2 separate regions of the Homo sapiens genome follow, and region 1 is linked to region 2. Evidence: fine-mapped expression QTL. A gene starts in region 2. The other region holds a variant in brackets. All regions are shown on one strand. Distances are between the middles of the regions. Region 1 overlaps ERFE (erythroferrone). Region 2 holds the start of ILKAP (ILK associated serine/threonine phosphatase).

Evidence for each region.
Region 1: its variant is fine-mapped to the expression of ILKAP in whole blood (INTERVAL, PIP 0.98).

The regions. Positions count from the first base shown.
Region 1 is chr2:238,160,427-238,165,788 of GRCh38, forward strand. It overlaps ERFE (erythroferrone), which reads left to right. Exons shown (of 8, transcript NM_001291832.2): 2 at 1,168-1,290; 3 at 2,310-2,412; 4 at 3,311-3,573; 5 at 3,649-3,757; 6 at 3,844-3,934; 7 at 5,180-5,258. Among named protein-coding and RNA genes, the nearest start is that of ERFE, 4.1 kb to the left of the region's middle. RefSeq lists an enhancer at 2,732-3,232. The variant A/G (reference allele first, on the strand shown) is at 2,177.
Region 2 is chr2:238,201,697-238,207,058 of GRCh38, forward strand. It overlaps ILKAP (ILK associated serine/threonine phosphatase), which reads right to left and starts at 1,999. Exons shown (of 12, transcript NM_030768.3): 1 at 1,803-1,999. The coding sequence starts at 1,857. RefSeq lists enhancers at 986-1,045, 2,008-2,880 and silencers at 1,416-1,505, 1,626-2,195.

The sequences.
Region 1 (5,362 bases), 41 kb before region 2:
CCCCATGTTTCCACGGAGGGCACACAGGAAGTGGAAGAGGGTCCTGGGAGGGGGTAGAGGGGAGATCAGCCAGCAGGTGGTGCAGTTGACCCTCTAAGGCACAAGGAAGCACTGAGCAGCGCTGAGGGCCCTGGGCCCCTGAACCCTTTCTCCGCCCAACCACAGGCTCCTCGGCACCGCAGCCCCCATCTTCCCACCACAACACCCTGGCCTGCGCATTGGTCAGCCAGCTCCCAAAAGAAGGCCCTGCATCCCCCCAGATCAGCCAGGAACCAAAGGCAGTGACTTGGCAGCCGGCTTTGTCTCTGATAAAAGGGCCCAGTCAGCTCTAAAATCCCAGGGTCCTTCCGTCAGCCCCCAGCGTCAGCACCCATGACCTCATCTAAGCCCTCTTGGGCCGGTTTCCTTCCCAGCTGGCAGCCTTGCCTGGAGCCCAGATAGCCCAAGGCCTCTCCCAGGAAGGTCCCTCCCAAAACTGTGCTCAGTGTCAGCATCAGTCAGGATGCAGCGCGGACAGGAATGGGAACTTCCGGAAGCATCACTGTCCATGTGTCAGTGTCTCAGAAGTGCTGAGGAAATGAAAGTCTCACACAGAGGCCTCGCGTCATGACAGCTCGCCTGGTCCTCTCCCCCACTGGACTGTAACCCGAGGCAGCTGTGAGAGCTGAATTTGCCTCCTTAGAACTTCTGACACTGGGGGAGGATGGACAGAGGAGGGTTGGCTAGTAGTTGGGCTCCCTGATAATCACAGTTGCTTCTTCCTGAGCACCTATGGGTGCTCCAGTGGTCGGATCCTCCTGGTGACTGGAGGACGGTGTGATCACTGCAGCTCCTCTGGAGGAAGGAGGCCCAGCAGTACGGGGATTCACCCCGATATCCAAGCCCTGCACCCCATTTTCCCTCCAGGCATCTTGGGTCTGCCTCTCCCATGAGTGCCAAGTCCAGGCCGAGGTGTGGCCCGTTCCCTAGGAGTCATCCTCCACGGGCCGGGGGAGAAGCTGTGAGGGGTTGGGGCCCCTTTGGGAGCTGCCTTTGAGGGCACCACAGGTGACAAGGACCAGGGTCCCAGAGTACAGAAGGCCACACAGTCACCTCCTGCAAAGTGTCCCACCTGCTTGGTAGGAGCCCAGTGAGGCCAACCGCCCTGCTGGGCTGGCTGTGTTCCAGGAGCCCACCGCTGAGCGTGCACACAGCGTCGACCCCCGGGACGCCTGGATGCTCTTCGTCAGGCAGAGTGACAAGGGTGTCAATGGCAAGAAGAGGAGCAGGGGCAAGGCCAAGAAGCTGAAGGTGAGGCCGGCATCCCGTCAGTGCCAGGCCGTGGGGGGTTCCGCCTCCTCGCTCCTCATCCACTCCCACTCCTACATCCTGAACATTTCCAATAGCACACCCCTCACGCCTCGGCCTGGGGACAGAGAACAGAGAGAACCCAGGCAGCCCCAGGGGGAGCCCCGAGTTAGGGGCCTGGTCCCAACCATTTCCCCACACCCCTAAAATGCCAGGCTCTCCCTCTTTTCTCCTCCCTCTGCATCCAGGCCAGGGAGGCTGGGCTAGCCCAGGCTGTGGTGAGAACCTTGTCCACACTGGAGGGGCCTGCAGGAGTGCCTGGCTCCCAGGGACTAGGGGCACAGGGTCCCTCTCACCCTCACTCAGCCTTAGGTCTTGGCCTGGGCAGAAACTTGGTGCTTGGTCCTGGTGCTGCCTCCTGCTTGGAGCCCCCAAAATGGAAAATACGGGGTGTGGGCTTCTCTGTCCCCTGGGGGCCAGTATCACCTGCCTGGGATCTGAACACACGATGGAAGGCCAGCTCGGAGTGCATGAGGCAGGTGCACAGGCCGCGCTGTCCTCGTGGCCTGGCCTTCTACCTCTGCCCAGCCTCCTGGCCCTGCCCTAAGCTTCTCCCCACAGGGGGCTCACTGGCTTCTGGTTCGGGTCCCAACCCAGCCTAGTGGGGACCTGCTGATGGTGGACTCGGGCCCAGTGCAGACCCTGAGATGCAAGTCCCCAAAAGCAGCCTAGAGTCTTCTTCCCTCCACGAGGCCTGGCCGCAGGAGCGGGCTTCAGCCCTCTGCCTCCCCACTCAGAGCAGAGTCCTTCCCTGCCAAAGCCCCGCCCCGAGGGCCCCCACCTCCAGCACAGTCCTTGTACTCACTCCAGGAGAAGCTTTCACTGAGGT[A/G]GATCCTTGGCTGGAGGTTGGAGCCCACTGGGGAGCTCTGTTGCCTGCCTCTTAGTGGCAAGAGCTTGCACAGGGGATGCTGTGGCTCCCAGCCTGCTCCTCACATGTCCTCACTGCCAAGGTTCCCTTTCAGTTCGGCTTGCCAGGGCCCCCTGGGCCTCCCGGTCCCCAGGGCCCCCCAGGCCCCATCATCCCACCCGAGGCGCTGCTGAAGGAGTTCCAGCTGCTGCTGAAAGGTAGGGGTGTGCACCGGCTGGGACACACACACCCCGCTGTGAGCAGGGCCTGGGAGGGTGTCCCGAGGAGCTGACAGGGCCAACCTCAACACTTCGGCGGGCACCCAAGGAGGCACCTGCTCTGGGCTGGACTCAAGGACAGTAGAGCTGGCCAGGTCCAGTCTCTGCCCCATCTTGGCCCATGTCTGCCAAGGGTCAGGGCTGGGGATGGCTGGGGGTTGGGAACCATGGCCAGGAGAAGGCTTCACAGAGGAAGGTGGACCTGGCCACTCAGTATGGCGGGTGCTCAGGGACCAGCGCCTATGCCCTGCCTGGAAGTCAGGAGAGCCCAGCGAAAGGCAGAGGCTAGTGTATGGGGCAGCACCAGGTGGAGCTCAGCCTGGCACCCACAGTCACCACTGGCCAGGGCTGGGGCAGCCTGCCCTGGAGGAGGCAGGGCTGAGTGGAGCCGCGGAGTCCACACTGAGGCCTCCTGCAGAGCGGCGGCTCACATTAGTCATTAGAATTGAGCCGTTTTTTCCTTTTAGTTCAATGTCCTGTTCGTTTAAATATAGCACCTTCTGCGCTGAAGAACCTCCTTGTACTTCCAGTAAAGCTGCAATCGCTTATTTTACCCCCAGCGTCTTTGGAAAATGTGGGTGGGGTAGAGGTGAGGCTGGAGGCCAAGGGCGCTGGGGCACTTCTGCCCGAGCTTCCCAAATCTTGAGGGAAACGGGAGCCGCTGCAGGGTCAGGACGCAAAGACTCCGAGGCCCTTCAGGCCGAGGGGACGTCGCCCTCGCCCCACCCCTGCGCCCGGCAGGCCCCTGGTCTCGCTAGCACCTGTCGTTCAGGGCTGGACCCACGCGGCGGGCGGGTGAGGGGTCCCTGGCGCGCGGCCACCGCTCGCTCTGTGCCAGGTGCGGTGCGGCAGCGGGAGCGCGCGGAGCCCGAACCCTGTACGTGTGGCCCCGCCGGGCCGGTCGCTGCGAGCCTCGCCCCGGTCTCGGCCACCGCCGGGGAGGACGACGACGACGTGGTGGGGGACGTGCTGGCACTGCTGGCCGCGCCCCTGGCCCCGGGGCCGCGGGCGCCGCGCGTGGAGGCCGCTTTCCTCTGCCGCCTGCGCCGGGACGCGTTGGTGGAGCGGCGCGCGCTGCACGAGCTTGGCGTCTACTACCTGGTGAGTGCCGGCGCGCGGGAGGGCGGGTGAGTCCGGCCGGGCGGGAGCCGGGGTGACCATCCGTGCCCCTCGCAGCCCGACGCCGAGGGTGCCTTCCGCCGCGGCCCGGGCCTGAACTTGACCAGCGGCCAGTACAGGGCGCCCGTGGCTGGCTTCTACGCTCTCGCCGCCACGCTGCACGTGGGTGAGGCCCGGGGCGTGGGAGGATCGCCCGCTCTGTCGCCCACCCCGCCGCCCGCCCGCTTGACCACGTCCCACCCTCCCCCGCAGCGCTCGGGGAGCCGCCGAGGAGGGGGCCGCCGCGCCCCCGGGACCACCTGCGCCTGCTCATCTGCATCCAGTCCCGGTGCCAGCGCAACGCGTGAGTGTACCCCGGCCCGGACCCCACACCCGCATTCGCTCGGCCTCCACAAGCTGGAGGTGGTTAAACAGGCACTGGACGGGGCTTCCGCCCGTTCACACCCCACCGTGGCCTAGGTGACCCCACACCTTCTTCCAGGTCTCCCGGTCTACTTCTGCCCCTATCAGGCCTTCCCTTCACAGCAACTGGGAGCTGTTAAAAATGACCTTTCCAGCTGGGCGCGGTGGCTCACGCCTGTAATCGCAGCACTTTGGGAGGCCGAGGCGGGCGGATCACGAGGTCAGGAGATCGAGACCATCCTGGCTAACATGGTGAAACCCCGTCTCTACTAAAAATACAAAAAATTACCCGGGCGTGGTGGGTGCCTGTAATCCCAGCTACTTGGGAGGCTGAGGCAGGAGAATGGCGTGAACCCGGGAGGCGGAGCTTGCAGTGAGCAGAGATAGCGCCACTGCACTCCAGCCTGGGCAACAGAGCGAGACTCCGTCTCAAAAAAACAAACAACAACAACAAAAAAAAACCTTTCCAGGCCACTCCCTGCCCAGACCTTCACCTCCTCCCCAGGTCCTAGGAGGCCGGGCTCCTCCTAGCCTCCCAACTCCTTCCCACCTCAGGGACTTTCATCTTGGGGCTCGAAGCACCAGTGTTACTTCAAGAGGCCTCTCCAGACAGCTTTCTGGAGGCCCCCTCCTCAGTCGCCCTCCCACTCCTCACCCGGGAACTTTCTTCCCCATGATCGCATCCCTTGCTCCTGCACCATCTGGCCCACGAGTGCAGTGACTGTGAGCTCCCTGTCTCCCCACACCCAGAAGGGAGCCCAGGTACAGCGGAGATACCCTGCGGGTAGGATAGCTGGAGCAGACTTGAATGAATGGATCAAGTCCAAAACTTCTTAGTCTGCCTTTGAACCCCCAGAGTGTGTTGGCCTGAACTAACTTAGCATCACCTGCCACCACATCCCCACTTCCGGCTGCATCAGCCAGTGTCCTGTTTCCCATCAGAGCCAGGGCTTTGCTGCCTCTTGCTGGGCCCTCGCCTTGCCTTTCCCAATACAGCAAGCATGCCTCTGGCCCTGTGTCCTTCCTCCTCTTGGGGACTCGGTTCAGACACCACCTCCACTGGAAGACCTGGCCAGGGTCAGGCACTTTGCTGGGCATGTGTTGGCTGCTGGCAGGATTGTGTGTCGTAGGTGAAGTTGGTGGGGTCTCATGGGGCAGGCTGACCCTCCCTCTGTTTTGGGTACAGCTCCCTGGAGGCCATCATGGGCCTGGAGAGCAGCAGTGAGCTCTTCACCATCTCTGTGAATGGCGTCCTGTACCTGCAGGTGAGTGCGGCAGGCTTGGGCATCGAGGGGCACCGCCTGGGCATGGCCACGGGTGGCTGGGTGCAGAAGGGTGCTGTTAGATGCTCAGGATCACTGGGTCGGGT
Region 2 (5,362 bases):
AGGTAAAAAGCAATGGAGATTTTAAGACTCATAGGTTTACACGCACACTGGTGAATCCAAATGCTGTCCCAAATATATTCAGATAGAAATTATACTCCATTGACAAGAGAAAAAAGACTGCTACACAAATCCAATTTTTACCCACAGCTAAAACCGTGGTTATTTTGAAAATGAATGGCTGAGTCAAGTTCAAAGACTCCAGGACCAGTTACTGAGATGCTCTGTACCATCAGAACGGTCAGTGGGGGCAGGGCACGGTGGCTCACACCTGTAATCCCAGCAATTTGGGAGGCCGAGGCGGGCGGATCACCTGAGGTCAGGAGTTCAAGACCACCCTACCCAACATGGTGAAACCCCGTCTCTACTAAAAATATAAAAATTAGCCGGGTGTGGTGGTCGGCGCCTGTAATCTCAGCTAGTAGGGAGGCCTAGGCAGGAGAATTGTTTGAACCCGGAGGTTGCAGTGAGCTCAGATCTCACCATTGCACTCCAGCCTGGGCGACAAGAGTGAGACTCCGTCTCAAAAAGTAAAATAAAATAAAATGTTTTCTCGCCCAGAATTACTGCAAATCACAAGCCTGAACATCCTTGGAAGCTCAATTCAAACACTGCCTCCTTCCCCAGTCTCTCGGTGCCCGACAATCCCTCCTCAAGAGTCCTCAGCATTTCCCACAGTCATTAACTTTTGCCAGTTTTAATTACCGTAATTAGTACCCTTCAGAAAGCAGCTCTTAGAAAGCGAAGGCTGGGCCTTACTCACCTCCGTCTACCCTACAACAGCAGCTCCCAAACCACTGGTCTCCAGCCCCCGCTGGGTTGGCCTGGGGATTTAGTAACAGATTCGGAAACCCCACTCTCAGGGATTCGGATTTACTGGGGCTGAGGTGGGCCTGGAAATCTGAACGTCTTAAGTTTTCCAGGTTTTCTGCCCCCAAGTTAAATTTTGTAATAAGGCCCTAAACTACAACATCAAGCTGGAAGTCTTGCATATGAAATATTCACGCGTTTTGACAGATGAAACCCGGAGACTGTAACCCACAGGACGCAGGGATTAACACAGGCCCTGTTTCAAGCTGCTAGGATGCTGAGCTCAAACCACAGCCCACAGGGACTCCCACTGGCAGGGGCCAGCGCTTAGGAGATGAGCGGACCCCTTAACTTCAAGGAGAGGGGGAACTTCCCGTGGACCAGAAAAAAAAAAAAAAAACTACTGTTAATTATCACAAAATCACAGGATGACAGAGGAGGCATCCTGTCTTCCAGGCTTCAAAAACACGAAGGATTAAGATGGTGATTAATTCAATCTCCAGTGCAAATAAAAACGCCAAGCCCCTGAACTTGCACCGGCCCGGAACGCGGCCGTTCCACAGCCCGCGGGTGAAGTGCGGCCCGGAAGCCGCGGGCGGGCGACGCGCAAGGCAGCCCAGGCCGCGGGTGGAATCGGGGCGCGGGGGCCCGCGGTGCCGCCGGGCGTTCAGAGCCGGTCCCTCGGGTCGGCCCACGCGGTCGCGCCGGCGCCTTTCACCGCCACGCAGAGGGGCCGTGGCCACGACGGCTCGGCCCTTTCCTTCCTGCGTAGCGAAAATGGCGGAGCGGCCTCTCCGAGCTCCGCGAGCGACCGGGCCTCCGACAGGGCCGCCAGTGGGCCGGACGGGGCCTGGCCAGGCAGGAGCAGGCCCCGTGCAGCCCGCGCCGCCCGCCGCCTCCCAGCGCGGGCGCCGCCTCAGCCGCCCCGGGCCTCAGGCCGCCCCCATCCCGCCTGCTCTCCCTTCCCTGGCCGGCCCGGCGGCAACGCCGCTTACCGGCAGCCGGGCGCGGCGAGCGCTCGGGCTCCGGCAGGTCCCCGAAGAGGTCCATGGCGGAGGCTGGGTGGAGGCGGCAGCAGCGACAGACACTCAGCCCGCGAGCAGCGGCCGGGCTCCACACCCCGGGCGGGCGGCAGCAGCGGGCGGGCGACGGGCAGGGGCGGCCGGCGCCGTCAGTCACCTGCAGGGAGAGTCCCGGACGCCACCAATCGGCGCGCGGCGTGGCCCGGCCGCCCCAGAGGGCTGCGCGCGGGCTGGGCGGGGCGGCTGGGGGCGGGGCGGTGCGCATGCGCGTGGGCCCCTCCCGCGCCCCGACTGCGAGCCGGGCGGACGGCGCCGTCTGGGCCCCGCGGTGTTTCCCGCCTTGGCGAACCCCGGGCCCCTCCTGCTTTTCCTTGGCTGGGGGTGTCCGATTTCTGTCAAGTTTCGTTGAGTTCCTGTCCAAGAAGCCCTGTCCAGAGAGAAACGTCTGAGCTCAAGGGCAGCCCCTGATGCCTGGGAAGGCTTTCTGGAGCTCTTGCCATCTCTTCGGCTCGTCCTTTCACCACGGCGTGCCTGGTTTCTGGCCTGTTTTAGAGACTGAGAAACCGAGGCTTGGATGGAGCGGCCCTGGGCGTCAGGACGGAAACCTCAAAAGATGCCGGAGGGAAAGGAGGCATTCCCTGACTTGTCTGCACCCACTGGTGTCTGTGGGGAGCGGAGAAGAGGGGCTCCTCCTTAATGGTGTCCCCCTCCATGCCTGTAAAGAGAAAGGCGGCCACTGACATCGGGGAGCTGGCCTGGTTCTGCAGCCAGGACTTGGGGTTGGTCTGGCACAAACAGCTAGGCCTGGGTGTTCTCTTTGAATGTGAACAATTTCATAAAACACCAACATCAGGCCGTGATACAGATCAAGAGAAAAAAACAGACCACTGTGTAATCAAGTGTGAACACAGACAAAACAGGAACACTGTCCAAGCCACAAAAGTGACCACATTCCCCTCGTCTTGGCCAATAAGAGTGATTGCTGCTTCTTTACCATTACATGTTTAGCCTTTGTCTCGTCCTCCTGCCGTCTAGATAAGCTTCATCAAGATATCCAATCATGGAATCCTCCTCTTCCTGACATCCAATCCGGAGCAAAGGCCCGTTTCCATAAATGTTTCCCCAAATCAACTAACACAAACCCAAATCTTACACCTCCGTTCCAACATCGTTTACCCAAGTTCCCCAGGTTATGTGGTCTCCCTCCATGCAAAGAGTTTTCAGCCCAGTTCATTCTGGGGCAGATGTATTTCTGACGCTCTCTGGCTGTAGGACATGGAGGGAGCCCAACAAGGCTTCATGCCTCTCATCTGCGTGGCTTCTCACTAGCAACCGTTTGAGATATTCATGCTGCCTCCTCCATTACAGCAGAAACACTCAAGTAACAATGCTTGTAACCGTTAAAGAAAGAGGAAATAAATACAAAAAGCGGCTCAACATTAAAAGGTTTATTTCAGAGAATAAACCTGAGAGGGGATTCTGGCCAATTTCGATCAGGAGCGCTCTCTCTTACAGACTAAGCATTCTCTCTTACAGACTAAGGATATTTAAGGGTTTTGGAAGTGGGGGAACGTTTATTGCAGGGTTGGAATGTCTCTGGTCGGAGGGGAGGCTATTGGAGGAGAGGTTATTTCAGGGTTAGCATGTTTCTGGTTGAAGAGAGGTTTATCTTAGGGTTGGAATATTTCTGGTTATGCTGACATTAGCCGTTAGGCTGATGTTTTGGGGTAGGATTTAGGTGGTTTTTTAATCAAGGGGAACTTAGAAAGGTGGTGTTTGTCCAAGATGGCAATGCTCCTGCTCTATCAATCCAGTCTCTATAGTTATGAAAAGGACAAGGGGCAGCGCATTTTTTCTGGCTACTTCCTGCTGGGGGAGTGAGCAGAGAGTTCTTTGGTTTCAGATTGATTGTAGGAGTAACGCTGTCTGTAGATGTTTTTGGGTAATTGTCTGTGAGATGGCCATGATCCTGCTGGTTAAAAATCTTTGAAAAAGGTGGCCAGGCGCGGTGGCTCACGCGTGTAATCCCAGCACTTTGGGAGGCCAAGGCGGGTGGGTCACGAGGTCAGGAGATCGAGACCATCCTGGCTAACATGGTGAAACCCCGTCTCTACTAAAAATACAAAAAAAAAAAAAAAATAGCCAGGCATGGTGGCGGGTGCCTGTAGTCCCAGCTACTTGGGAGGCTGAGGCAGGAGAATGGTGTGAACCCAGGAGGCGGAGCTTGCAGTGAGCCGAGATCTCGCCACTGCACTCCAGCCTGGGCGACTGAGCAAGACTCCGTCTCAAAAAAATAAAAAAAACTTAGAAAAAGGTTAATTAAGCAGGGTAAGAACATTATTCCTAGGCATATTTTTAGGAGAGAGCCCAGGAATGGGATGACCCATATTAGGACTTTGTTTTTAAACCAGTAATTTATTTGGTTGTCTTGTTATTCTCTTAGCTTTTTAGCCCTTTCTTTAAGTTTTTTAGCAGCGTCTCTTACTAGGCCCAACTGATTGAGATAGAAGCAACATTTTTTACCGAATGAGAGGCAGAGGTCCCCTCTTTCAGTTGTTATAACATCTAATTCCTGTCTATTTTGGAGGACTACTCCAGCCAAGGAGTCTACTCCAGCCAAGGAGTCTAGTTGGCCTTGGACTCTTATAAGGCTTTGGGCCATATGCTCTAATGAACTCTGCAGTTCTGTTGAAAGAGATTTCAAGTATGTTAAGCAGGTGGCGAATCAGCCTGCTCCCAACCCAAGCCCGGAGGTTATACCTAAGGCAGCCATTAAAGGAATGACGTGGATGGCTCTCCTCTTCCTAACATATTGGATGGATGGAACGGGTAAAGATTGATTAGGAGGAACTAGTCCAATGGAGGGAGAAAGATAAACTAGGGTACAGGTTCTGGTCTGGTTGATGGGGAGACAAAGAAATATGTGTTGAGACCACACAAAAAGAACAAGCCTTTATTGTAAATACAAGCAGAGATATGGACAGAAAATAAGTGAATTAAAGATGAGGTGTTTGTTCTTTCCTGTGGTTCATTACTCCAGGTGGACAAGGAGGAGGCCTGGGAGACACCTACTATACTAGAGGTATAGGAAGAGTTATTTTTTACAGATTTAATGCGGTCGGATGCTGCACTATTGATATTGAGCCAAGGAAAATTGTGGGCACTAGGAGCAGCACAGGTTAGGCTGGAGGCATTGGCTGAGGGAAAGGCTGTCAAACGAGCCAGCTGCAGAAATGCTCCGTTCGCTTCAGGTGATACTTGGTAGTTAGCCTGGTTAGTTTGATGGTCAGAGGGGTGTTTAACAATGATAGTGTGGTTGCATAGGTTAGATGTTAAGGACCCTACAGGGAAATTTCCCTCCGAGGCTGAAAAGCAAAGTGAGGCTCATTATAAGAGGAGGAGTGTGTTTAGTTATGGGCCCTTCAATGGGAGGGCCGTGGGGCTTAAGGCGCTGTAGGGAGTTATCCTAGGTTTGAAATAATTTGTTGGCCTGATCGGCCCTGGAAGTGGGATAATCACCGACTAGAGTGTCA